7 linked regions of the Homo sapiens genome follow. The protein of the gene in region 6 interacts with the protein of the main gene of each other region in a biochemical or structural test. Each region holds a gene or a part of one and is shown on either strand. Other genes may lie near its edges. The genes, in order: UBE2N, CYTH2, UBE2W, LGALS8, UBE2D4, TRIM23 and CYTH1.

Region 1 (2,882 bases), on a different chromosome or scaffold from region 6:
TCTGATATCTACTCCCGACCTTAAGCCAGGAGACTTTGTAAACTTACTAGGTTATAATAAAACTTAAGAACTATCGATATTTACTAATCTACATCATGGAACTATTTCAAAAGCAGTCATATGGTAAGATGGATCAGGAGTCTTTAAAAATAAAACTGAGAAAGAAAAATCATGTGATCAATTCAGTAGTAGAGACAGAGGTTGGTATCAAGTCTATGTTCATACACTTACCAGTGCCACCCAGCAGGGCCATACAAGACACATGAAATGAGATCAGCTCAAGGGTGACAAGATGAAACTGGGAGAGGGCCGGGGAGACCCGAACTCTTAATATTGGATTCCACACAAGAGGAAAAATTTTAGTCCAGCTCCCAGCATGGCAGCTAATGGCAAGTTAGTACCATAAAGCCAACTCTTGGAATATACCTGACTTCCACGATAAAATGGAGATGAGTGCAGGGGTGAGTGTATAGTTAAGAAAACAAACAATATATTACTAGTCCAGGTGGTAGATGACAGATTTTTATTATTTACACTTCTCTCAAATTATTACATTCAGCATGTTTTGCTTTTTATGTTATTTAAAGTATAAACCCTCATATAATTCCCTAAGATGGGTGGCATGCCAAGTAGCTAAATGAAATATCATCCCAGCCCAAAAGTACTTATTCGAATGAAATATTACATTTTTCTTAAATAAAGCAATAAATTAGGTACCCTATTATCATGGTATTTTCTTTTTTGGCCAGCTTTTCTAGATAAGGTTGTATTGCTACTGCAACTAACAAAAAAGATGTGGCAGGGCTGGGCACGGTGGCTCACGCCTGTAATCCCAGCACTTTGGGAGGCCGAGGCGGGCAGATCACGAGGTCAGGAGATGGAGACCATCCTGGCCCAACATGGTGAAACCCCGTCTCTACTAAAAATACAAAAAATTAGCCAGGTGTGGTGGCAGGTGTCTGTAGTCCCAGCTCCTCAGGAGGCTGAGGCAGGAGAATCGCTTGAACGCGGGAGGCAGAACCTGCAGTGAGCCAAGATCATGCCACAGCACTCCAGCCTAAACTACAGAGCTAGAAAGTGGCTAGAGCAGCCAAAAAAAAAAAAAAAAAAAAAAAAAAAAAAGGTTCCTGAACCATTCAACAGAAAAATGAGGCCTATTCCTATCATTTCCTCGATCCAATTTAGTTCCACTTAGGTCACTGTGTTTATAATGTCTTTTAGGACAGATTTCCTTCCCCATTCTCCATCAAACAACCATAGCACCTGTGACTTTTATCTGTTGGTTTGTATTTAATCTTATTTTTAAGTGCTTCTTTGAAATTGTTTTACAAGTACATTCTTGGTCTAGAGTAAGGTTCTATATAGTTGGCCCTCCATATCCATGGGTTCCACTTCCGTGGATTCAAACAACCAGACAAAATATTCCAAAAAACATTGTGTCTGTAGTCAACATGTATATTTTTGTCATTATTCCTTAAACAATAGTGTAACTATTTACATAGCACTTACATTATAATAGGTATTATAAGTAATCTAAATATTAACATAAGCGGGAGGATTTGTGTAGATTGTATGCATATACAACATCATTTTATTCCAGAGACTTGAGCATCTGCGAATTTGGATATCCAAAGGAAGTCCTAGAACCAGTTCCCGACAAATACCAAGAGATGACTTTACTTTAGACCTAAGATCTTGCTAGACAGCCTTTGAGAGGATGAAGGATAACTAGAGCAGAAGCAAATCGCAGCGAAGTAGACTACAACAATCAAGTCAAAAAACATAAAGCTCCTATCAACACCTCAAGATTTTAGAAAAGCCTCTTAACGGGCAATTTTCTTTTAAATAAAGACTGGGTCCCACTATGTTAGCCAGGCTGGTCACAAACTCCTGGACTCAAGTGATCCTCCTGCCTTGGCCTCCTAAAGTGCTGGGATTACAGGCATGAGCCACTGTGCCCGGCCTGGGCAGTCGATTTTCAGGAAGCCACTTAATGTTCAGATTCTTTTCTTCTCTCCCAGGACTTTGCAGATGCTGCTGTTCCCTCTGCCTGGAGATGTTCATCTGGCCTGAATCCAAAAGTCTGTCCAAGTTACTTCTCTTTTCCATGACAGAGTTACAACTATTTGTCTGTCCCCCTTCCCCATTAGAGTATATGGTCCCCAAAGGAAAGCCCCATGCCATTCACTCACCACCTAATCATCCCCAACAACTAGTGGGCAAACATGAAACACTTTTGTTGAATAATGTGTTTCCTTTAGCCCAGGGATTACAAAGTCAAAGGCTTACAAGGGGGAAGGACTAGCAGGTGTGCTCGGAGGGGACTCTAGCCAACTGGAGAGTAACTGGTGAGAAGACAATGACATGCTCTTAGGGTGTCTGCTACTCAGATCCTCTCAGTTAAGTCCCGTGCACAAAGGTGGGTCAGGTCTACTGTTGCCAGATCTTCAGATCATTCAAAAGTTACCCGAATTCTGGATTTTCATGCAAATCTCCCAATTTTTAAAAATGTTGGCATCAAATTCAGAATGTTTTAACCAGCCACACTGTGTGGGCCAGGGAAAACAGGCCCAAAGGCCAGGTGAAGCTGCAGTTTTCAACTGCTGCCTTGGCCTCTCCCAGAGCCCCTTAAGTCCTAAGAAGGCTCAGTCAACACACTGGCACTCGTTTCATCCCACTGGTTGAGAAAGCAAGTCTTAGCAAAGTAATGGGGGAGTCTTACCAAAACTGCAAAGGAAAAAAATATGATACCATGAAATTAGAAATTCACTGCATTTGAAATGAAAATGACTTATTTCTGTACTTCTATAACTCACAAATTTAGCAGACATCATTTAGACATTTTTGTAGTGCAACAGATTTAAATCTGGAATTTCATGGTT
Region 2 (3,446 bases), on a different chromosome or scaffold from region 6:
GGGAGGAAGGGCTGGGGCCTGGACTTCTGGGTCTGAGGGAGGAGGGGCCGGGGTCCCCAACTCCTGGGTCTGAGGGAAGAAGGGGCTGGGCCTGGACTCCTGGGTCTGAGGGAGGAGTGGTTAGTTATCTAGGGCTGACATAACAAAGTACCTCAAAATTAGTGGCTTAAATCACAAAAACTGAAGGTCTCCCAGTGCTGGAGGTCAGAAGTCTGAGATGAGGGTGTCAGCCCTGGCTGCTCCTGAGGCTGTGAGGGAGGATGAGTCCCCGGTCTCTGGCTTCTGAGGGTGTGCCGGCAGCTTTGGTTTTCCTCGGTTTGTAGAGGCGTCACCCCAATCTCTGCCTTCACCTCCACATGGTGTCATTTCTGTGTGTCTGGGTCTCTGTACAAACTTTTATAAGACACACATCCTATTGGATTAGGGCCCACATGAATGACCTCATCTGAACTAATTATATCTGCAATGACCTTATTTCCTAATCAGATCACATTCTGAGATGCTGGGGGTTAGGATTTTAATATAAAGTTTTTTGTGGGGGTGGGGGAGACACAATTTGATCCGTGCTGAGTCCATTTTGTGTTGCTCTGACAGAAGACCTGAGGCTGGGTCTTTATAAAGGAAGAGGTTGATTTGGCTCAGATTCTGATGGCTGGAAGGTTCAAGACTGGGCAGGTGCACTCACTGAGGACCTCCCTCATCCCTGAGGCTGCTGCTGCTTCTGGGGGAGGGCAGAAGGATGCAGCTGTGTGCACAGAGATCACATGGTGCTGAAGGAAGCAAGGGAGAGAAAACCAAATTCCCAAATTCCCAAGGGTGAGCACTCACTCACCCCTTAAGGCAGGCATTAATCTATCCATGAGGACTCCACCTCCAAGACCACACAGCTCCTTATGAGGCCCCACATCCCAACACCTGCCACACTGGGGCTCGAATCTCAACATGAATTTTAGTGAGGACAAACGATATCCAAACCATTGCCACCCAAAAGAAGTGGGCTGAGGCCTGGCGCGGTGGCTCACACCTGTAATCCCAGCACTTTGGGAGGCTGAGACAGATGGATCGCCTGAGGTCAGGAGTTCGAGACCAGCTTGGCCAATATGGTGAAACCCCGTCTCTACTAAAAATACAAAAATTAGCTGGGTACGGTGGCTCACATCTGTAATCCCAGCTACTCGGGAAGCTGAGGCAGGGGAATCGCTTGCACCTGGGAGGTGGAGGTTGCAGTAAGCCGAGATGGCGCCATTGCACTCCAGTCTAGGGCACAAAGTGAGACTCCCTCTCAAAAACAAAACAAAACAAAACAAAAAACAAAAAAAAAAACCTACAAAAAAAATCAGAAGCGTGCTGGGAGCTTGGGGGTCCTGGGCGAGGAGGGAGCCGGACGCAAAATCCTCAGGTCCTGGGGGAAGATGGACTGTGGGCAATGCTGAAGGTCAGTGTGACGTGATGCAGCCTGGCTGGAATGTTCCACAGGCATCTCCAGCTTAATTTGGTCAAAACGGAATGCCTGATTTCCCCTTAAATACTCCCTTTCGACCACCTCAGTCATGGCACCGTCATTCACCAGCTGCGGCGGCTCTCAGCAAGTCCTTTTGGCTCCTCTTTCAAGACTCCTAGCGTGGCCCAACGTTCTCCACCTCCACAGCCACGCCATCCTGCACCGCACAGCTTCCTCTCACCTCCCCGCTCGCCTCCAAATTATTCTCCCTGAAGCAGCCAGGGGCCCCTCCTGCAACCTCAATCCAAACACGTCAGGCCCCTGCCTCCTGCCCTTGCACGGCTTCCATCTGCTAAGAATCCAGCCAGAGGCCCTCCTGGGGCGGCCCAGGCCCCACGCGACCGGCCGCCTGCCTCTGCCCTCCCCTCCCGCCGCACTCCCCTCTTCGCCACCAGCGGGCTCCGCGCCTCTTCCTGCCTCTGCCTGCCACGGAGCCGGCCGCCCTGCATGCAGTTCATCCGGGGAGGCGGCAGGAAAGGGTGACATAGTGGCGGGACCCGCTGTTTACCCTGGGACCTCATCTCCCACGACCTTCTTGGGTCGATGACTCCGTTTCCCTGGCACCTGTGGGAAAGAGAAGTGGGGAATTCTATTTTCTCATTTGGAACTCCATTTCCCACCAGCCCCCGGGGCCGCGGCGGTCAAAGCCTCCTCTACCCTCCACAAAAGTACGGGATCTGACTAAGAAAAAGAAGACAAACGCCGCCACGGAGTCTCGGGAAACTGCGACGCCCGGAAAAACCTCGGGTCTGGGTCACCGTGGCTTTGGCGCCGCACAGCCTGCCGATAACTGTAGTCCACCTTCCCGCGGAGGGGCGCAGGGTACCCCCACCGCGGGGGCCTTCAGGCCGGCAGGTGCCTGTGGCCAAGGGCGGGACAGGGATCAAAGCCCGAAATTCCGAAGCGCCGCATCCCATCGGAGAGCTCAAAAGCGAACACAGCGGGCAGGAGGGACTACAACTCGCGGCACGCCTCGGGGCCACAGGCGCCTCTCCCACCCGCGTCCCGGTCCCTGCTGGGACTTGTAGTTTGTTAACTAAAGAGCGCCTCAGCTTCAAAGGCGGGCATGGGAGAGTGACATGGGACCTCCCAATCCGCCATCGCACCCTGCTCGGGATCCACGAGCCCTTGTTCTTTGGGGACACCACACATACCCCAACTGGAGGGCAAAAGGTCACAGACCTTAGCCCAGGATTCAGGGGTACCCCACATGCCAAGACTTCACCTTCATAGAGGCGATCCTCGAATTTCTTTGGCTGTCAAGAATCCCAGGAAAGACGTTCAGAACGCAGGTCCTCAGCCCTATCCTTGACACAAAATGTCCTCCAAAGGAGGCTGATCCTTTGAGAACAGACAAGCCTGGCTCTGGCACTGGCCCACAGTCCTGCCCTCTTAGCCCGATCTAAGGCTGCCCAGCCCTTCAGGACATCCCATCAGCAAGGCCCTTGCAGGACATGGGCCACCTCCCCACTCATCCTTCCCTGACCCTCCCTGAGGTGGTCGCATGTTCTTCCAGCTCCAGGTTGTCCTCAAAGCCCTGGCCCAGCTCACAACCTCACCAGCTTCATCTCCTGCCCCTCAAAGACCTCAAGCCCCATGAAAGCAACGATGGGAACTAGCTGATGGCTGTAGCGTAACTGGCTGATGGCTGTCAAGTAACTTCTAGAATGAATGCTAGACCTTGACCCTGAATCCCTGCATTCTAAACTCTGTCCCCGGCCAATTCCAACTCCAGACTCCCACCATATTAACCTTCTCCCTTTACTCCACTCCTGCTGGGCTCGGGGTGAAACCAGAACAGACCCACCGGGACAGCCCAGGCAGCACCCAGAGACAGGCGGGTCCAGGCCCCTGTCCAGGGAAACAGGCTGGCTCCACGGAGCACCTCGACTCTGTCAACCCCAAGAAATGAGGGGGTCAGCAGGCCAAGTGGTTAAATAATTAA
Region 3 (3,500 bases), on a different chromosome or scaffold from region 6:
CAGCTAATTTTTTGTATTTTTTAGTAGAGACGGGTTTTCGCCATGTTGGCCAGGCTGGTCTCAAACTGCTGACCTCAGGTGATCCACCCACCTCGGCCTGCCAAAGTGCTGGGATTACAGGCATGAGCCACACCGAAAAATATCTTTTAAAAAAATAATTGTGGCCAAAGAAGAAACTCTTGGGTATTGCTTGTGTTTTAATGAAAATATCCTACTGGTCAAATGGCTTTTTATGGCAAAATGAATACCTCAAGGTAGATGTCCGTAAGATTTGTAAACTCCCATTCTGTACATCTACAACACATGGGAGTATCAGATGCATATGATGTAATAAACTATAGTTCATATTTATGAAAAATAAAATTTCATTAAAAAACAGTTGTGGACAGACTCCAGTGTGGAACTATAAGACCATGTAAGCATTTGTTTTCTTTTACAGAGCAATACTTTTTTTTAGCAAAAAGTAATGAAGAGGGTACTAGCACCGATAGATGTAATTGAGATAAATGTCATGCATAGAGCGTAGCCATTACAAAATCAAAGTCCTTTCAGGGAGTCTTCTGCAATTAGGTAGGATAAGTGACTTGATTTCTCTTATTTTGAGACTTTACTTTTGTTTTTTAGCTTTTTTTTTTTTTTTTATTAGTGGGAATGGAGAGTTGATGTCCAGAATTTAAAGAAAAAAAAGAAATAGATGCAAGTATGGAAAATCGTTCCTTTGGGAAAAAAATGCCTTTTGCTGTCTTATCTAGTCTTAGCCAAGGAAATGTGTCCCATATGTTAGTTAATATATTTGAAATATTAGAAGACTCTACTCATATGAAAGACTGCTTTATTAACATGTAAATCTTTGTAAAATTGTAACATTGTAACAAAATCAGATTCATAGCTAGATATTTAAAATATATATAAAACTTAGCTTATGGTAATTTCCTATAACATATTCCATATTAAACTATAGCATACCTTATTCTATTCATATTTACCTCACTGGTTCTTTTTTCTGCTCTATAAAGAGAAAAAAGGGTATGCCTAAAGCAATACTGTATATCTTTTATCAGTTTCTGCTATAACTTAAGGTAAGATTTCTCCTTACTGATATTCTGTTGTACTTGGGTATGAGGCAGTTTGCAGGGCTGAGATACTGTAAATCTGATTTAGGAATTGTTGGTTTATATCTGATGGGTTTTATAAAAATCTAATTATACTTACTAAATTAGAATCTGTGAAAGCAGGACACTTGAATTTGTATTTTTAAGCAGATCTTCCAACTATGTGTTCTTTTGTTTTTTTGTTTGATTTTTGGCGAGGTCAGGAATTAGGAATTACTGCTAACCTGTAGAATAAATATAGTACACAGTGTAAACATAAGACTTCTGCTTTCTTCGAGCAACTTTGGACTATGCTTACAGATTCCTCAGGATATATGAATTTATTCTCCTGCCTATTTGCTTAGGTAAATAAGTTTAAGAAAAACTACTTTAAGATATTTGTTGAATTATTAGAGCAAAGGAAGGAAATAATAGATTTATTACCATTCAAAACATTGCTGAGACATGATAGAGAAAGGAAAAACAGTGTTACAGAAGAATTGAGTAAAAGGGAAAGGAGAGTAAAACTGCAAATTGGGAGACTTGGTCAACTTTTGTATTTTTCGTCTAGGCACATAGTTATTTACTGATTAACAGCTAGTAACTTGTACCCATCATAATGGATGTGTAAGTTTAGAGGAGGTGGAATATATAACAGTCATTTCCCTTTGCACATGTGCCTTAGAGCTAACATTGTTAACAGGTAGTAGTAGGAGGAATGTTCCTACCACCTGTCATTCATATTTTCCCAAAATTGAATATTTTTGTTTGGAATTTTATCATACTTGATTTTTATATGCAGAGAGCAATGAGCAAAATCTGAAAAATCATTCTTATAAATGTAGTTGTCTTTCACTAGTAAAAAATACGTAGTTTAGAATTTTTAAGGAGAATTTATCAAAAATAACCGAAATAAAAAATAATTTGGCATCTTTTCCCTACTATGTGGTTATTCGTTCAGTGAAACCAATACTTACTGAGTTAATGAGAGTAAACAAATAAGCAGTTGTTTATCATGTTCCTGGCACTGATTTTGGTGGTTTTTTGTTTTTTTATAATCAATATTTGTTATATGTGGAGAATATTTTAGTTTTTGGTAGTAGAGAATATTTGAGTTTTAATGGAATTTTATTCTCTCTTAGGTCATGTTTACTGGTGAAAATATTCCTGTTCATCCTCATGTTTATAGCAATGGTCATATCTGTTTATCCATTCTAACAGAAGACTGGTCCCCAGCGCTCTCAGTCCAATCAGTTTGTCTTAGCATTATTAGCATGCTTTCCAGCTGCAAGGAAAAGGTAAGACTTTTCAGAATTATTCCAGATAATATCTCTTCTTTCAGTTAGGTAGATAAATAATTTTAATATGTAATTATTTTTATTTGGAGGAAGGATTTATGCTTTTTATTTGAAAATTATAGGGAATTTCATGTTTAGTAATAAATTGGAAAGTTATTTTGATACCTTTCATTCCAAATAGAAGTTTTACATGTTGAATGGGGTAGAAGCCAGACTTACTGTTTTATATTCTTTTAAACAGGAAATGTACGGTATTTTCTTAAAGCTGATTTTATTCCCAAAAGCATGCACAGGTAAAAGTATACAAGAAATTCTTTTTGTAGATTTCACAGTGGAAAGCCTCAGAAAAGTGCATCATAGCTTCCTTCTCCCCTCTGCCAGCTCCCACCCGATCAACCTGTTTCAGGGAATTTTTCAGGAACCAGAGCTTCCCTGTCCTAATGATTAGGTTGAAGGAGGAAGACCAGTTTACCAGTCGAATTTTCAGGGCGTTTCTTCCTGTTCTCCTTTATTAATCCACAGATTCTATGTCTGATGGAAGTGGGGGGAAAAAAAACAAAAAGAAAAAAAATCACTTAATTAAACTTAAAATGTAGGCTGGGCACGGTGGCTTACACCTGTAATCCCAGCACTTTAGAAGGCCTAGGCAGGTGAATCACCTGCGGTCAGGAGTTCGAGACCAGCTGGCCAACATGGTGAAACCCTGTCTCTACTAAAAATACAAAAATTAACTGGGTGTGATGGTATATGCCTGTAATCCCAGCTACTCAGGAGACTGAGGTAGGAGAATTGCTTGAACCCAGGAGGTTGCAGTGAGCCAAGATCATGCCACTACACTACAGCCTGGGTGACAGAGCGAGACTCCATCTCAAGAAAATAATAATGAAATAAATTTAAAATATACATATAAATTTAGGATACCCTTTAAATGTATCTGAATCCTCTGTACACTTCTGACACTCTTGTCATTCCTGCTTAAGGGTTAGTATAGCATAACATTTATGTATTTCTACATTTTAAAACCCCTCTTAAATCCCTATGAGGGTTTTCCTTTTGCATTCTGTTTAAAGGAGAAACAGCTTTGCCCTAGAGGTTAGGGAGTTATTTGTGT
Region 4 (3,500 bases), on a different chromosome or scaffold from region 6:
GTTTAACGCTAAACTGAATGACTACTTCAGGCTGCAGGAGCCTGGGATCCTCTCAAGCAGGTATTCTCTTTTCATCATCTACCCGTGTTCCTTCCTTCTTGAAAGTATGCCACTTTCTAGGAAATAGCTCTAATTTCAAGCTTTCAGAAGGCTGGACGTCTGTGGAAAAAGTTGTTAAAGCAGAAATTTTCTAAATCACATGACAAGAGGGGCCCTAAAAAATGTTGCCTGGGCTGGGCGTGGTGACTCACACCTGTAATCCCAGCACTGGGAGGGCGAAGTGGGCGGATCACTTGAGGTCAGGAGTTCCAGACCAGCCTGGCCAACATGGTGAACCCCTGTCTCTACTAAAAATACAAAAATTCAAAAAGTAGCTGGGCGTGGTGGTGCGCCTGTAATCCCAGCTACTCCAGAGGCTGAGGTAGGAGAATGGCTTGAACACCCAGGAAGCGGAGGTTGTGGTGTGCTGGGATTGTGACACTGCACTCCAGCCTGGGTGACACAGTGAGGCTCCATCTCAAAAAAAAAAAAGAAAAGATGTTGCCTGATCTTACGGGGCTGCTCTGGAGTTCTACAAGGCAAGGATAGGCCTCGTGGACAAAAATGCTACTCTCTTGTCTGGCCAGAAAAAGCCGAGGTCAGAACACGGCCTTAGTCGGCTCTGCTGCCCACTGGCTGTTCACAATCTAACCACCTCCTGCTTGAATCATCTCACTTTGGAAATGAAGATTCTGACGCTAGCCCTTCTTCCAGCTCACAGGACCGTTCACGGGTGGAAGGCGGTAACAGGCACGGAAGTATCTGCACTGTGACTGGTACCGAAGGATACTGACCTTTTGGCATTTGCATTCACTTCTCCTTTAACGACGACAGTTCGTCCAGGGCCCATGGGGGTGTTCAACCTTGCAGCGAATGGCAGCCTCTGAAAAGAAGCCACAGTCAGGACCAAGAGGCCTGCAGAAAGCGATCTCCAGGGAAAACTCGTGTCCAAAGAACACTACGGAATGTTTCAGAGCCATGACCCTGTAAATCCCAGGAGGGGAGAGACAGTCTGCCTTGGTCCCAGCTGGGTCCCCTGCAGCAGCACTGTCCCTGGCTCGAAGCAAACACACATGATTACATTTTAGACGATGAAATGAGTGACAGGGTGGGACCCGATGCCCTCTGTATGAGTGAAACACGCCAGGAAGGCCCCCTGTGCCTGGGGTCTGAGGCAGTACTGTGTTCTGCCTGAAGGGGAAGCAGCCAAGCAGGGAGGTGCTGAGGAAATACACAGGAATGGCTCAGAGGCAGGCCTGGTTGACTCTCGAATCCGTCCAGGGACGGCACACAAATGCAGAGGGGGCTGCTTTGGGCCTCTATTGTGGATACAGGTTACTCGTAACAGCTCATTACAACTTAATTTTTATATAGAGTTAAGAAAATTTGGTGCTCTTCAAACCTTTGACACATAGTTCATAGGTGGTATTTTGGTGCAAGTCAAAGTGTGATTGACAGTCGAATCTTTGCTCTTGGTGTAGACAGTTCTGGGTGCGATTTTAGAAATGTCTCCTCCTCTATTACTAGGCTGTAGGGAAACAGTTCTACAGTAAGGAATGGAATGAATGAAGCTGCCCTCCACGGTTTAAACTGTTCATTTTCTATGCAACTTTATAAAATATTCCACATGAAATAACCCAGGCAAAAATACTCACAAGCTGGGGCGTGCCAGACTTTGGAACCTATTGGAAAAGAAACAAAACACAACAATGTTAGAAGGGGAAGAATTATAGTTTATAATCTGAAGTCTTGGTTGTGCTGAGCTGAGCCTGGCCGGAGCCTGGGATGTTCCTGCTCCACTCTGGTGTGACCTCCAGGCAGCTGGTGCTTTATGACGGAATGGTATGGTGTTGTGAAGGGCTACACGGGTTGAGAAGAGAGTCTGATATCCCTGTTCATCTGAGTCCTTTATCCTCCACCATAAATTAATAATTTTTCATAGAACTATATGAAATTTTTTTAAGAGACAGGGTCTTACTCTGTCATCCACACTGGGATGCAGTGGCTCAATCATGGCTCACTGCAGCCTCAACCTCCTGGGCTCAAGTCATCCGCCTACTTCAGCCACCCAAAGCTGGGATCACAGCCATGCGCCACCATGCCCAGATAATTTTTTAATTTTTTGTAGAGATGGGGTTCTCCCTATGTGGCCCAGGCTGATCTCAAACTCCTAGGCTCAAGCAATCCCCCCACCTCAGCCAAAGCGCTGGGACTACAGGCCTGAGCCACCACCTTCACCCAGCACTACATGAACTTCAAACGTGTCTTAGTTGTCCTTTCCAGGGTGCCCCCAGAATGCTAAGATTCTGTTCTGTCTGTGAGGTGTGAACGTGCCAGTCGGTAAGACCTCACTTTCTCCATTAATAACAGCGCATTTTTAAATTGCAGTTATTCTCCCAGGGGTTGAAGATACACATGGAAGTTCATTTGCCAGTGCACTGGCTGATGTTCAATATTTGGAAATACCCCAGAACAGTACTATTCAGCAGTTAAGAGTGAGAGAGTGCTTTTTACATAAGAACAGTGAGTGGCAGTTACAGAAACTGACAGGTGAATCATCAGCAAAAACTTACTGCGTGCCTGGCACCACAAGTATGTATCTCAATTTTCAAGTGATTACTTGCGTTCTAAAAGCATAATTTTCAAAAACCCAGCCTTCTTGCCATTTCATTAACATGGCAGCTAAAACAACATTTTTAAACCAGTGGCTCATTAAAAGATTTAATATTTACATTTTCTCTACTTATCTCTGTCAGTTCCAGACTAGATGCTTGGGTACTTTGTAAGTCCTGAGAAAAGATAATAAAGATTAATTTGTAACATCCAGTAGAAAATATTTTCTAAATATTTTATATTGACATATAAAAAAATTATAAATGGTACTAAAAATATGCTTGAAAACTATGATCCAAAAATACACTTGACACTGTGGTCCTTTCCGCCCCCCATCAGATTGGCAAACATTACAGAGAATAAGATGTAATGTCAGCAAGAAGGTGGGAGCATGGCTGTTGAGAGTGCAAACTGTTTTTACCCTTGTGAAGGGCGAGTTAGTATCTATCAAAATTTTCAATGCAAAGACAGTCATGTGTTGCTTAACGAAGGGGGTATGTTCTGAGAAATGTGTCCTTACATGACTTTTGTCATCGTGCAAACATCACAGAATATTACTTAACAACCTTAGATGGTACTGCCAACTACACACCTAGGCTGTAGGGTGTGGCCTATAGCTCCTGGCCAGTGAATCTGTACAGCAGGCACTGTACCAAATACTGTAGGCAACCAGAGCAGGATGGTAAGTATTTGTGCATATAAACTTACCTAAACATAGAAAAGGTATGGTAAAAATACAGTATATGACAATCTTATGGGACCACGGTTGTATATGTGGTTCATCTTTGACTGAACTGTCCTTATGCAACACATGACTGTGCTCTTTGACTCAGGCACTCCCAGCCTAG
Region 5 (3,500 bases), on a different chromosome or scaffold from region 6:
GTGGTGAGGGAGTACTACTGGTATCTAGTCGGCAAAGGCCAGGGTATTCCAGGGATTCCCTGCAGTGCACAGGAGAGCCACCCTTCCCATGACAGATAATGATCAGCCCCAAGTGTCAATAGTGCCAAGGTGGACACACCCTGGTTTAGGACTGGTGAGTCACACCTTCACTTTTCTTTATTAAGTTAAAAGAATAGCAAGCCTCCTTTGCCCTTCATGCACACACCATCCCATCAGTGGAGCTTTAGAGAGCAGTGCCACCAAAGGGAAGGAGAAGCCCAGGGAGCTGCCTCGACCACCCTGCCCTAGCATGTCTTGTGCACCGCAGGTCGTCTCACTCCCTGGACCCTTGGACCTCGTACTCCTTCTCACCTGGGCTCTGCATGGGTGGCCGAGCCTGCCCTGAGGCTCATAGTCCTGTGGAGGAGACAGGGCATTTAGCATGTGAGCTACTCAGCACTGGGAAGGAGCACAAGCAGTGGTTGGCAGCAGGAGCCAGGGTGGTGGAGAGATTGCCCTGAGAAAGGGGAACTGCAGGAGCTCAGCAAGAGGGCGGACAGGTCCCCAGGAAACTGCCCCAGGGGAGTGAGCCTGTGAGGAGTTGGGAAGGAGGCCAGAGGGGTACGGATGGCCCCAGGAGTAGGGTCTGCACGCCGTTGTGGGGATCGCCACACCGACACAATCACTCTGCTGCCTTGTGGAGAAAAGGCTGGGGTTCAAGTGATTCTCCTGCTTCAGCCTCCTGAGTAGCTGGGACTACAGGCACTCGCCACCACATGTGGCTAATTTTTGTGTTATTTTTAGTAGAGACAGGGTTTCACAATGTTGGCCAAGCTGGTCTCGAACTCCTGGCCTTAGGTGATCCACCCACCTCCGCCTCCCAAAGTGCTGGGATTCCAAGTGTGAGCCACCACGCTTGGCCAGGTTGTGCATTTTGTCAAGACTTACTCGAAAGTCCTGCATCTGCATCAGACCCCTTAGCTGAGGGGTTGTGATATTGCTATGTCTTACTACCTTGACTTGGCCTTGATGCCTCAATTTGAGTCAGAGGCTTAGCTGCTGTTTTGCATGTTGTTTATCTGAGTCAATGTGAAGAAGCCCCTTCTGTGCTCACCAGCTGCAGCTCTGTCCAGACATCGCCACCAGAGGCTACCTGGTGCCTGAGCATTTTAAATCTTTGTTAAATATGCTTAGGATCCCAGAGACCTTTTAAGCTTTTAGCAAGGGAGTGGAGTGTGCTGAGCAGGACAATGACAGATGCTAAAATAGCTTCACCACATTGGAGTACAACTGCTGTTCAAGGGAGTTTGGTTGAAAAATCATAAGCATGCTTCATGGTGCTGTGATCCACCCCTTCTCCCTTCCCCTCTGGAGAGACTGTGGCAGAGTCTTATCAAGTAGTAATTTTCTAGCTTGTCTCTTTCATTACTGTGTGAGCAGCTGAGGATTTTCCTTAAACAGATACCAATGTAGTCCTGAATGTCTGTTGGGCATTTTCAGCATACCTAATTGCCTAAGGACAAAGGAGAAACAGTGATTATTATTATTATTTTTTAATTATTATTATTATTTTTGAGACACGGTTTCACTCTTGTCTCCCAGGATGGAGTGCAGTGGCACAATCTCAGCTCACTGCAACCTCCGCCTCTCGGGTTCAAGCGATTCTTCTGCCTCAGCCTCCTAAGTAGCTGAGATTACAGGCACCCGCCACCACGCCGGCTAATTTTTTGTATTTTTAGTAAAGATGGGGTTTTGCCATGTTGGGCAGGCTGGTCTCAAACTCCTGACCTCAGGTGATCCGCCCACCACGGCCTCTCAAAGTGCTGGGATTACAGGCGTGAGCCACCGTGCCCAGCCAACAGTGGTTATTATTAAAAAACTAAGAAGTAAGCTCTGTGGGTGAGTTGGGATTATTTTAACAAGGAGAGATGTGAGCTGAAAGGTGACAGTGACACTCTATGAGAGAAGAAAGTGCTTCTGTCTTTTAAAAATCTCCTTCCACAGGGGAACAGGAGCAACGATTTATGTTTTGGCACAAATTTTCTGACAATAGGAGGAATCTGGCAAGATTGCATGATCTTTATTGGAGATATTGAGGCAGATACTTAATGTCTGCGATGATTTTGAAGTTTGACCCTTCCTGGGAAAAATTACAGATGTTCAAGCTCACATGCACACAACTCTCTTCTCATATTCGAAAGTAAGTTTAAAAAAAACTATTAAAAACTATATCAAACATGCAAAAAATTGTAGATAATGATATAAAGGATGTTTGTGCATCCTCCATCTAGACTAAGAAGTACCAGTGAGTTCTCAAAGCTAGCGGAGGAGGCAAAATCCCTTTTTTTTTTTTTTTTTTTTTTTTGAGACGGAATCTCGCTCTGTCACCCAGGCTGGAGTGCAGTGGCGTGATCTCGGCTCACTGCAACCTCTGCCTCCTGGATTCAAGCAATTCTCCTGCCTCAGCCTCCCAAGTAGCTGGGATTACAGGCATGTGCCACATGCCCGGCTAATTTTTTTGTATTTTTAGTAGAGACGAGGTTTCACCATATTGGCCAGGCTGGTCTCGAACTCCTGACCTTGTGATCCACCCACCTCAACCTCCCAAAGTGCTGGGATTACAGGTGTGACCACTGTGCCCGGCCGGCAAAATCCTATGTTCCTTTGCCCCAGCCCCTGCGTTGGGGTCACTGCTCACCCAGAGGGAGTGTAGGTGAGGCAGATTCTTAGGCTCCTATAGCAGTACAAGCTGCACCTGACTCAGAGCACCTTGCACATCACAGACAGCGGACTCTTCATGGGTCCCACAACATCCCTGGGAGAGGTACCATGTACCTACTTATAGTGAAGGCTCTGAGGTCCAAGGTCATTTGAAGAAGTAATGTGTGGCTGTGGTTTAAAAAAGAAAAAAAAAGTCAAATGTAGGACAGTATACAGTAGAAAATAGGACCTTCTTTAAACTTTGTCTCTCTAGCCACGCCTGGCCCCCCCGCCTTTTTTTTCCATAAGGCATTGAGTCCTACTTGTCTTTTCATTTCTCTTCCAAGAGTAATCTCAACCTGGATAAGCACTTGTTTGTGCTTCCTTGTTTTTCCCATGAATGGAACAGACCTTTCCGTGAATCTGCATCTTGCTTTTCCCATAGCAATATATCTTGGAAATTGTTCCATATGATCACATTCATGTTTTAAAAATTCACCTCATTCTTTTTAAACAGGTGTAATATTCTGTTGCTTATATATAACATTAATTTAACCAGTAATCAATCTGAAGACATTTAGGTTTTACATCTTTTGTTACAGTGGTTATCCTTACATATTTGAAGTGCACAAGGGTATTTTAGGGCTAAATTCTGAGAAGGGGGGGTCTTAGAAAGGGTGAAGTAGAAAGGTGGGGAGGGTTTGTGGCCTGGCAGAGGGTCCACGGCCTGAGCTTCTCTTTTTCTTTTTTTTTTATTATTATACTTTAAGTTCTAGGGTACATGTGCACAACGTGCAGGT
Region 6 (3,500 bases):
AAAGTGAAGAAGAAAAAAAATCCATACATGTTCTGTGTGAGCCATTCCAATTCCATCTTCCACGATTTGTTCTCCTCCTTCAATGTGCTGCACAATTCCAACTAATTTTCTGGAATAATCTGAGATTTCCTCTGTGAAGGTCCGTATGCAGTGAGCCATATCTAAAATTGATGCTCGGATCTGATTAGCTTCTGGTTCCAATACTGAATGCTATAAAATGTACCATAATTAGAGAAAAGAACTCATAGTATTGACTAATAATATAAAAAACTATTTAAATCCCTATTAATACAAAAAAGCATCAGCCACAAGTGACTTTTATGACACAGAAAAATACTAATTTACTTTCACTCCTTTATAAGAAAACTGTACTGCAAAGAAGTAATTTAAAATTTGGAAGTCCGTTTATTGCTAAACAAAAAACCAAGAGACTATCTCTAAAATCATATCCTAAGTAAGAGCTAACAGACATAAATATTGTCAAAACAATCTGGTGCATTATGAAAACATGCAAGCAAACAGAATGTTTGTTTCCTGCTCGAAAGCTATTTTTTTGTGAAGAATCATGATGCCTCTTTGAAGTTTTTTTTTTTTTATAACATTCAGAAATTAAATCTCTCATTTATTTTCATGCTACCAAACCCAATCACTCATCACTTAACTCTTCTTCAATCCCTACTTTCAGAATAAAGAACCAGGTCAGTGAAAACGAATACTGAGCTGGTAAAGTAGCTACAGTGATCCAACTGATTAATAATTAAATTCATACCTTGTGACCCTGGTGTTTTCCATATTCTTTGCAGACACAGCACATGAGTGGGCTAGTTTGACAACCTTCTTCCAAGCAAACAAACTCAATGGCATGCACCTGGTGCTGAGAGCACATAGTTTTCTCATGAGGTTTATCAGCTAGAGGAACTCGCCTGTGCTTTGCTAATGTCTTTGTAGAATGAGTAACTTGAGAACACTCAGAGCACAAATGAGTTGCACACACAGTGCAATATACAGAGGCAAGGTGAGCTTCATCTTCATCACAACGAATGATGCTCTGATAAACAAAAAATTAATGCCTTAAAATTGAACCCAATCAGTATAACATGACGAATTTTTAAATATAGAATCCATAATCCTTTTTGCTTAACTGAACAATATTTACATATGAAAATATATTGGTCATTAAGAACAAAGGTCATTCAATACTCATCTGAGAAGCATTCATTTCTAGGGGTAAGAAGCTATTTCCAAGATTAACTGGCCAATATATGTTATGAATTTGAAGCCAAAAATAGAACTATTCTCATAGATTCATATTCGGTGCAAAGATCTCTTCCACCAAATCCCCTCACTTTACACAAAAGAAACTAAACCATAGAGAAGTCAAAAGTCTTTCTGTAAAACTACAAAAATCTGATATTAAATACATCCCCATAGCTTTAAATATTAGTTGTCATGATGATGTATAGGAAGGACAGAAGCACAAATGCTATTTAGAAAATGTAGGAGTATGCATCAGAATTAGCTGTAAGCTTTTAAAAACATAGCTGTCTGGAAGAGAAATTCTTATTTCAACAGGTTGTGGATGAACCCTAGACTTGTATATATTTTTCTAATTATACGCCATGTTATTTTAATAGCTCCACAGGTGAGTCTATTGCACAATCACGGCAGAAAACCACTGATTTAAGCAAATAAAAAAAAAAATAGGCCAGGCTCAGTGGCTAACATCTGTAATCCCAGCACTTTAAGAAGGCTGAGGCAGGTGATCACTTGAGGCCAGGAGTAAGAGACCAGCCTGGCCAACATGGGGAAAGTCCATCTCTACTAAACATCCAAAAATTAGTCAGGTGTGGTGGTACATGCCTCTAATACCAGCTACTCAGGTAGCTGAGGCACGAGAATCACTTGAAGCCAGGAAGTGGAGGCTGCAGGGAACTGAGATCACGCCACTGCACTCCAGCAAGGGTGACAGAGTGAGACTCTGTCTTAAAAAATAACAATAAACAAATAAATAAAACCTATATGTAAGCATGTAAATATTATTTCTAGTTTTCAGGAATTACAAAAAATAACTAATTATGAAATAATTACTTTTATTTCAAGTAGATAAAAAATTACATGTCAGATAATCAAGAATGTTTTGAACACTTTTACTCAATATTAAAAGGCCATAATTGGAAGGGGAGAAATTTAGTATAAATTTTTTCAAAAATAAAAATGTTTAAATACATCAATGGTGTCATTCTTTATCACATTAAATAAAAAATGAATCCAAAGTGGAAGAGTTTTGTTTGCAATTATGAGAAATAAACACATGTACCATAAAAATTCAGGTCTTCTGTTTCCCAGACCTGACAAATAAATAAATTATAAACTATAATGTCAACATTAGCTAACAGTAATGTCTTTTGAAATAAAGATTAAAGATTTAGCACAGAAAGAACTGCATAACTTTTAGAAAACAGAGTGTTGCAGTTTGAAATTCATTTCACTGATTCACTTTAGTATAAAGAAATCATCATCTAATGAAAGAGAAGTGAAAGCAATCCGACATTTTTTTTCCTTCATACAAAATATGTGGTTTGCAAGTTGATCACCAAAATCATTAACTGATATTTACTCCAAATATATTTTTACCCATAACAGCCTACGAAAGCCATGTCCTATAGTACATATGTGCAGCTATGCAAACACATAAGTGCTAAAAATATACTTTTACATTATTAAAATCCAGTGTTCATGGATTCTGATATTTACTAGACATCTACCTGTATGGATAAAGACAGTACATCTATACAAAGTTTAACCTTTTCTTGAAGCTATAACAGTAACAATTCCCTCAGAAGTTACTGCTATCTTTAAGGCATTTTCCCCTCTGTATTAAATGGCCTCTTACATCGAGTTTTTCTTTCTCTCATTGAGTTTTACTGTTGACTACTTTTGCATCCTCTTCTCTACTGTTGCTTACATATCTTTCTTACTATTCCATAATCTTCTTCCTCTTTTCACTTTATTCTTGGTAGAACTGAATTATGATAAGGAAAAAAAAGTTCACACATAAAGCATAGTTTAGGCATAGGATTTTCAAATAATTCTAGTTTTTTCTCTTGGGAATAGTGTTGGCCTTCAGAACTGTAATGTAATGAAAAGTTGTGTTTCTAGAAATTTACCTGCTGAAATAAATGAAGTAATATTGTGCTAATAATGGCATCTATTAAAAGAAAAATTCATGCTCGTAACAAATATTTCACCAAGTATGATCAATACCTCTCCAGATATCCCAATGGATTCTTCTGCAGCTCCATACTGACCAATAGGCCCATTCTGCAGTCGTTCCAAAAGCTCCAATAAAGCAAAATTTTTTTTCAATCCCCAGACACCTGAATCACCTAGAATAAATATAAAAACAAAAACTAAATCTAACAAAATGGACTATTAATCATTTTACCCATACCTCAAAAGTAATTTCTAATATAGTTCAGTAGTTAATGTCTAAATTTTTA
Region 7 (3,500 bases), on a different chromosome or scaffold from region 6:
GGGAGCAAAACAAAACATAACAACAGAGCCGAGGCTGTTAATACCCTTCTCTGATCCCCAGGAAACTAAACACGAGGACTTCAGGGAGGGTTTTTTGGTTTGGACTTGTTTTTTTCACCTTCACTCGGTATCATTTTGAGTTTAGGAAATACCATTTCCCCTTTTCGTGCAAAGGCAAATGTCTTAAGTATCATCTAATTTAGTTCTTTCCCTAGTTTGCTTTTCCATCATGGTAAATCAGAAGCTTTCCATAGCTTTGGGAAGTCAAGACTTTGTTCTCTCTGGAGTAAGTCTCAGCTTGAAAAAAGAAGAAAAAAGAAAGACTTCCTTCTCTTCTTTCTCCTCTTCCCCACGTCAGAGATTAACTTTCAATCAGGCTGATTAATGGACGTCAAATTGAATATCAAACATAGCGCATGTCTTAGCCAATAATTCCAAGTGAAAATGTCATGGAAACTTCCTCTGCTTTTACAAACCCACTCTTAGTATGTTTTCTTGCATTACTGCATTCAGTAATGAATATAACATATACTCCTCCAAAAAAGAAAAACGAAAATTGCTCCAAACCCCTGATCCTGACCAGTTCCCTAGGGACTGTACAATAAGTTAGAAGCAGCATTAACACTACCACCGGCAATTAAAAAACAAAATAACCAAAAATAACGAAATCAGAAAATGCTGCAGTAATGACAGTGGCCTAGCAGAGCGAGCGAGCAGGCTGAGGGTTACATACCTCCTGGAGTTTGGGGCAAGGAAAAGGAGAGCCAAAATCATGGAAACATACAAATGAGGGAGAAAAGAAAATTAAAACAAAGAAATTAAACCCGATTCCTTAATCTTAAAGTGCAATGTATCAGTCACATTCATGCCTGCCTGGGGAGAGAGCTGAACTAAAAACACTCAACGGGCAAATGATCCCACTACTGTCTGGCACGTGAACGAGGGGCTCTTACATGCCACGTTCCACCTCATCAAGGCAAGATTTGAGGCACTACTGGAAACCTGGCCCCAAAGATGCCACAAATCGGCTTTTACAAAGCCAATGTTTACTAGTATATCCAGAATCAGAGCAAAGAAAGCTAAGGTTATTTCAGGGAAAATTAAATGTCTTTCTTGAGATGGCTGTCACTTTTTAAAGTGTGTGTAAGAATGCACACACATATACCCATGAGTACACATGTACTGATGTGTATACACAAGAATACACATTCTTATGGCTATATGCATACACAGACATATACACACAGCTACAGACGGCTGGAAGCCCTGCCTTCTGCAGCACATAAACACAAAGAGTGATACTAAGTGTGCTACAATGAAAACACAATATTCAGAGTCTAGAAGGATTTGATGGAGGTTTAGAAAAAGTAATGCAATGAGCTAAAACTGAGTCCCACACTTGGTTAAATTTTCTCTTTTTTAAAATACGAGATGCCTCATGAATTTGCATGTCATCCTGGTCTAAGAACCAAGATAATCTTTGTACTGTTCTAATTTTAGTATCTGGGCTGTCAAAGCTAACACTTAGTATTAGCATTTAAACAAATCTCGCTGTAGGGGGAAGTAAATCCAAACTTGAACACACTTTAAACGTTTCCAGTAGGTTTCCTTTCAACTCCATCCACTTGGCAATAGGAATGTGGAAGGGAAGGCTGCCTATGGGGTTAGTAATTTTAGAGCCTTAACTTCAAAGATTCTGGGGGCTTAAAGATATATAAAATGATGGCCAATTCAAGAGATATTTAAAACTGATCGGTGAAGTGGTGCTGTAAGGGGAATTTATGAATTAAGTCATTATGTATAAGCACAAGGACTTGGGATATGACTTTAAAAGGAAATATAAAGTCTACTGCTATCTGACCTAGTCAGAAATAAAGGATTCCATTTTAGCCTTCCCAGATGTGTCAGTAATGACCAAGAGAGTACTGACTTCTAATCACTGGGGCAAGCAGTTGGGCTGGTATAGGACGGAACAGCCCCTGCTAATGTGAGAACCCAACTCATCAAAGGCTAAAGCAGAAGGCAACAGAGGAAAGTACCCTGCTAGTGTCCAAAAAAAAAAAAAAAAAAAGGACATCATTATGTCCAGAGAGTCTAGAGCTCTATGTTCTGAAACCATTAATAAAGTAAACACATGTGGACATGAATGTGTATGAAAACCCTACTAAAGTCTTTCCTATTGATTACCCTGTCACCTTCACGGCAAGGCATGACCACAAATCTCAGCAATACAAGCTCATCACTTCTGGCAAAGGGAAGAGAAATGCATTTTCAGCTTTTCTAAATGAACAAAATAATTAATGTGGCTGATTCAGATTGAAAAGGAGGGGAAAAAAAAAAGAAAAAAAAAAAACCACTGCCCAAGAATGAGTAAGAGTGCTGTGGATTGAGCTGCAGCCAAGGGCTCTAGGCTTGCCATGCACACTGCCTGTGGGGGAGCCAGATGCAGAAGGAAGTGACGATGCACTGGGGTGGGGGCAGGAGCGCCAGGTACAAATCTGTGGGATGGGAAGTAGAAAGATGGACAAGGTCGGCCACCCTCCCAGTGGTTATGGGGACAGGGAAGGCAAACGGACCAGGTGCTCAGGGAACTGCCTTGAAACAAAACCTGGTCAACCAATTCAAGGGTAAAAATGTGGAGCACAGACACATGTGGGCAATATTTATGGTGGAGTAAGTCTGTCCCCAGTAGTCTCTGTGTCCCATGGGGGCAATGACTATGAAGTCACTTCCCTTTTGGAAGCCGACCTTTGTTAGAACAGAACTCATACCAAAGTCTCTCTGGAGTCCTCTATAAGCCACCCCCTTTCCTACATGGTGCGTGTGTGTCCATGAATGTGTGTGAACATGCATGCGCGTGCACACACACGCACGCGCACACATGCACACGCACAAACACGCACACGCGCACACACGCACGCACGCACACACGCACACACACCGCCTTTCTTCCTAAGTCTCAGCTTTAGGAGCCCTGACTCAGAGGTGCGCTTACCGAGTTTCAATAGCCAGCCTTCTCGGTCTGGATTGAAGAAAGTGTGAGTGAGGTCATTCCCGTCGTCTTCTGGGATTTTAAAGGGTTCATTTTTTATGCTCTCATAGAGATTCTGGGATAAAAGATGACAATTTATGTCTCTGATTCTAGAAATATTTTTTCCTCCTCCCCTTTCTCTTCATTCATTCCACAAGCATTCATGTGCCTATAGTAAGCCAAGCCTGCTAGATGCTGAGACTAGAAGATTATGACCATTTCTGCTTTCAGGCAGCTCACAGTGACAAAATAAATAAGCCTTCCCAATTAGGAAAATAAAGAAGCAGCCTGACTTCTATTCAAGCTTTTAGTTTCATGTTTACAAACCACTGTCCCCTCCCTGATTCCCTAGCTGGGCCTTACTACCACTTTCTTAATGAAATTCACATGGTTAAACAAATTAAAAGAGGAGACCCTTGATAAATTGTATGTTTTTTCTTCCTTCCTACAAAAGACGATCCTGTTCCCA

The links.
Region 1: the proteins of TRIM23 (region 6) and UBE2N form a complex in vitro, tested with the Homo sapiens proteins (one study listed by BioGRID).
Region 2: the proteins of TRIM23 (region 6) and CYTH2 form a complex in vitro, tested with the Homo sapiens proteins (one study listed by BioGRID).
Region 3: the proteins of TRIM23 (region 6) and UBE2W form a complex in vitro, tested with the Homo sapiens proteins (one study listed by BioGRID).
Region 4: the proteins of TRIM23 (region 6) and LGALS8 form a complex in vitro, tested with the Homo sapiens proteins (one study listed by BioGRID).
Region 5: the proteins of TRIM23 (region 6) and UBE2D4 form a complex in vitro, tested with the Homo sapiens proteins (one study listed by BioGRID).
Region 7: the proteins of TRIM23 (region 6) and CYTH1 form a complex in vitro, tested with the Homo sapiens proteins (one study listed by BioGRID).

The regions. Positions count from the first base shown.
Region 1 is NC_000012.12:93,405,184-93,408,065, forward strand, and holds the end of UBE2N (ubiquitin-conjugating enzyme E2 N), read right to left. Parts: 3' UTR 501-2,882; downstream 1-500. UniProt on the Homo sapiens protein: The UBE2V1-UBE2N and UBE2V2-UBE2N heterodimers catalyze the synthesis of non-canonical 'Lys-63'-linked polyubiquitin chains. This type of polyubiquitination does not lead to protein degradation by the proteasome.
Region 2 is NC_000019.10:48,479,369-48,482,814, reverse strand, and holds the end of CYTH2 (cytohesin-2), read right to left. Parts: 3' UTR 501-3,446; downstream 1-500. UniProt on the Homo sapiens protein: Acts as a guanine-nucleotide exchange factor (GEF). Promotes guanine-nucleotide exchange on ARF1, ARF3 and ARF6. Activates ARF factors through replacement of GDP with GTP.
Region 3 is NC_000008.11:73,809,363-73,812,862, reverse strand, and holds part of UBE2W (ubiquitin-conjugating enzyme E2 W), read left to right. Parts: intron 1-2,233; coding exon 2,234-2,389; intron 2,390-3,500. UniProt on the Homo sapiens protein: Accepts ubiquitin from the E1 complex and catalyzes its covalent attachment to other proteins.
Region 4 is NC_000001.11:236,540,982-236,544,481, reverse strand, and holds part of LGALS8 (galectin-8), read right to left. Parts: intron 2,829-3,500; coding exon 2,772-2,828; intron 1,722-2,771; coding exon 1,695-1,721; intron 1,568-1,694; coding exon of another isoform or gene 1,442-1,567; intron 923-1,441; coding exon 834-922; intron 1-833.
Region 5 is NC_000007.14:43,943,436-43,946,935, forward strand, and holds part of UBE2D4 (ubiquitin-conjugating enzyme E2 D4), read left to right. Parts: exon of another isoform or gene 1-1,513; intron 1,514-2,698; exon of another isoform or gene 2,699-2,889; intron 2,890-3,500. UniProt on the Homo sapiens protein: Accepts ubiquitin from the E1 complex and catalyzes its covalent attachment to other proteins. In vitro able to promote polyubiquitination using all 7 ubiquitin Lys residues, but may prefer 'Lys-11' and 'Lys-48'-linked polyubiquitination.
Region 6 is NC_000005.10:65,610,834-65,614,333, forward strand, and holds part of TRIM23 (E3 ubiquitin-protein ligase TRIM23), read right to left. Parts: intron 3,387-3,500; coding exon 3,265-3,386; intron 3,023-3,264; exon of another isoform or gene 2,894-3,022; intron 1,049-2,893; coding exon 770-1,048; intron 211-769; coding exon 28-210; intron 1-27.
Region 7 is NC_000017.11:78,695,274-78,698,773, forward strand, and holds part of CYTH1 (cytohesin-1), read right to left. Parts: intron 3,108-3,500; coding exon 2,996-3,107; coding exon of another isoform or gene 2,995-2,995; intron 737-2,994; coding exon 734-736; intron 1-733. UniProt on the Homo sapiens protein: Promotes guanine-nucleotide exchange on ARF1, ARF5 and ARF6. Promotes the activation of ARF factors through replacement of GDP with GTP.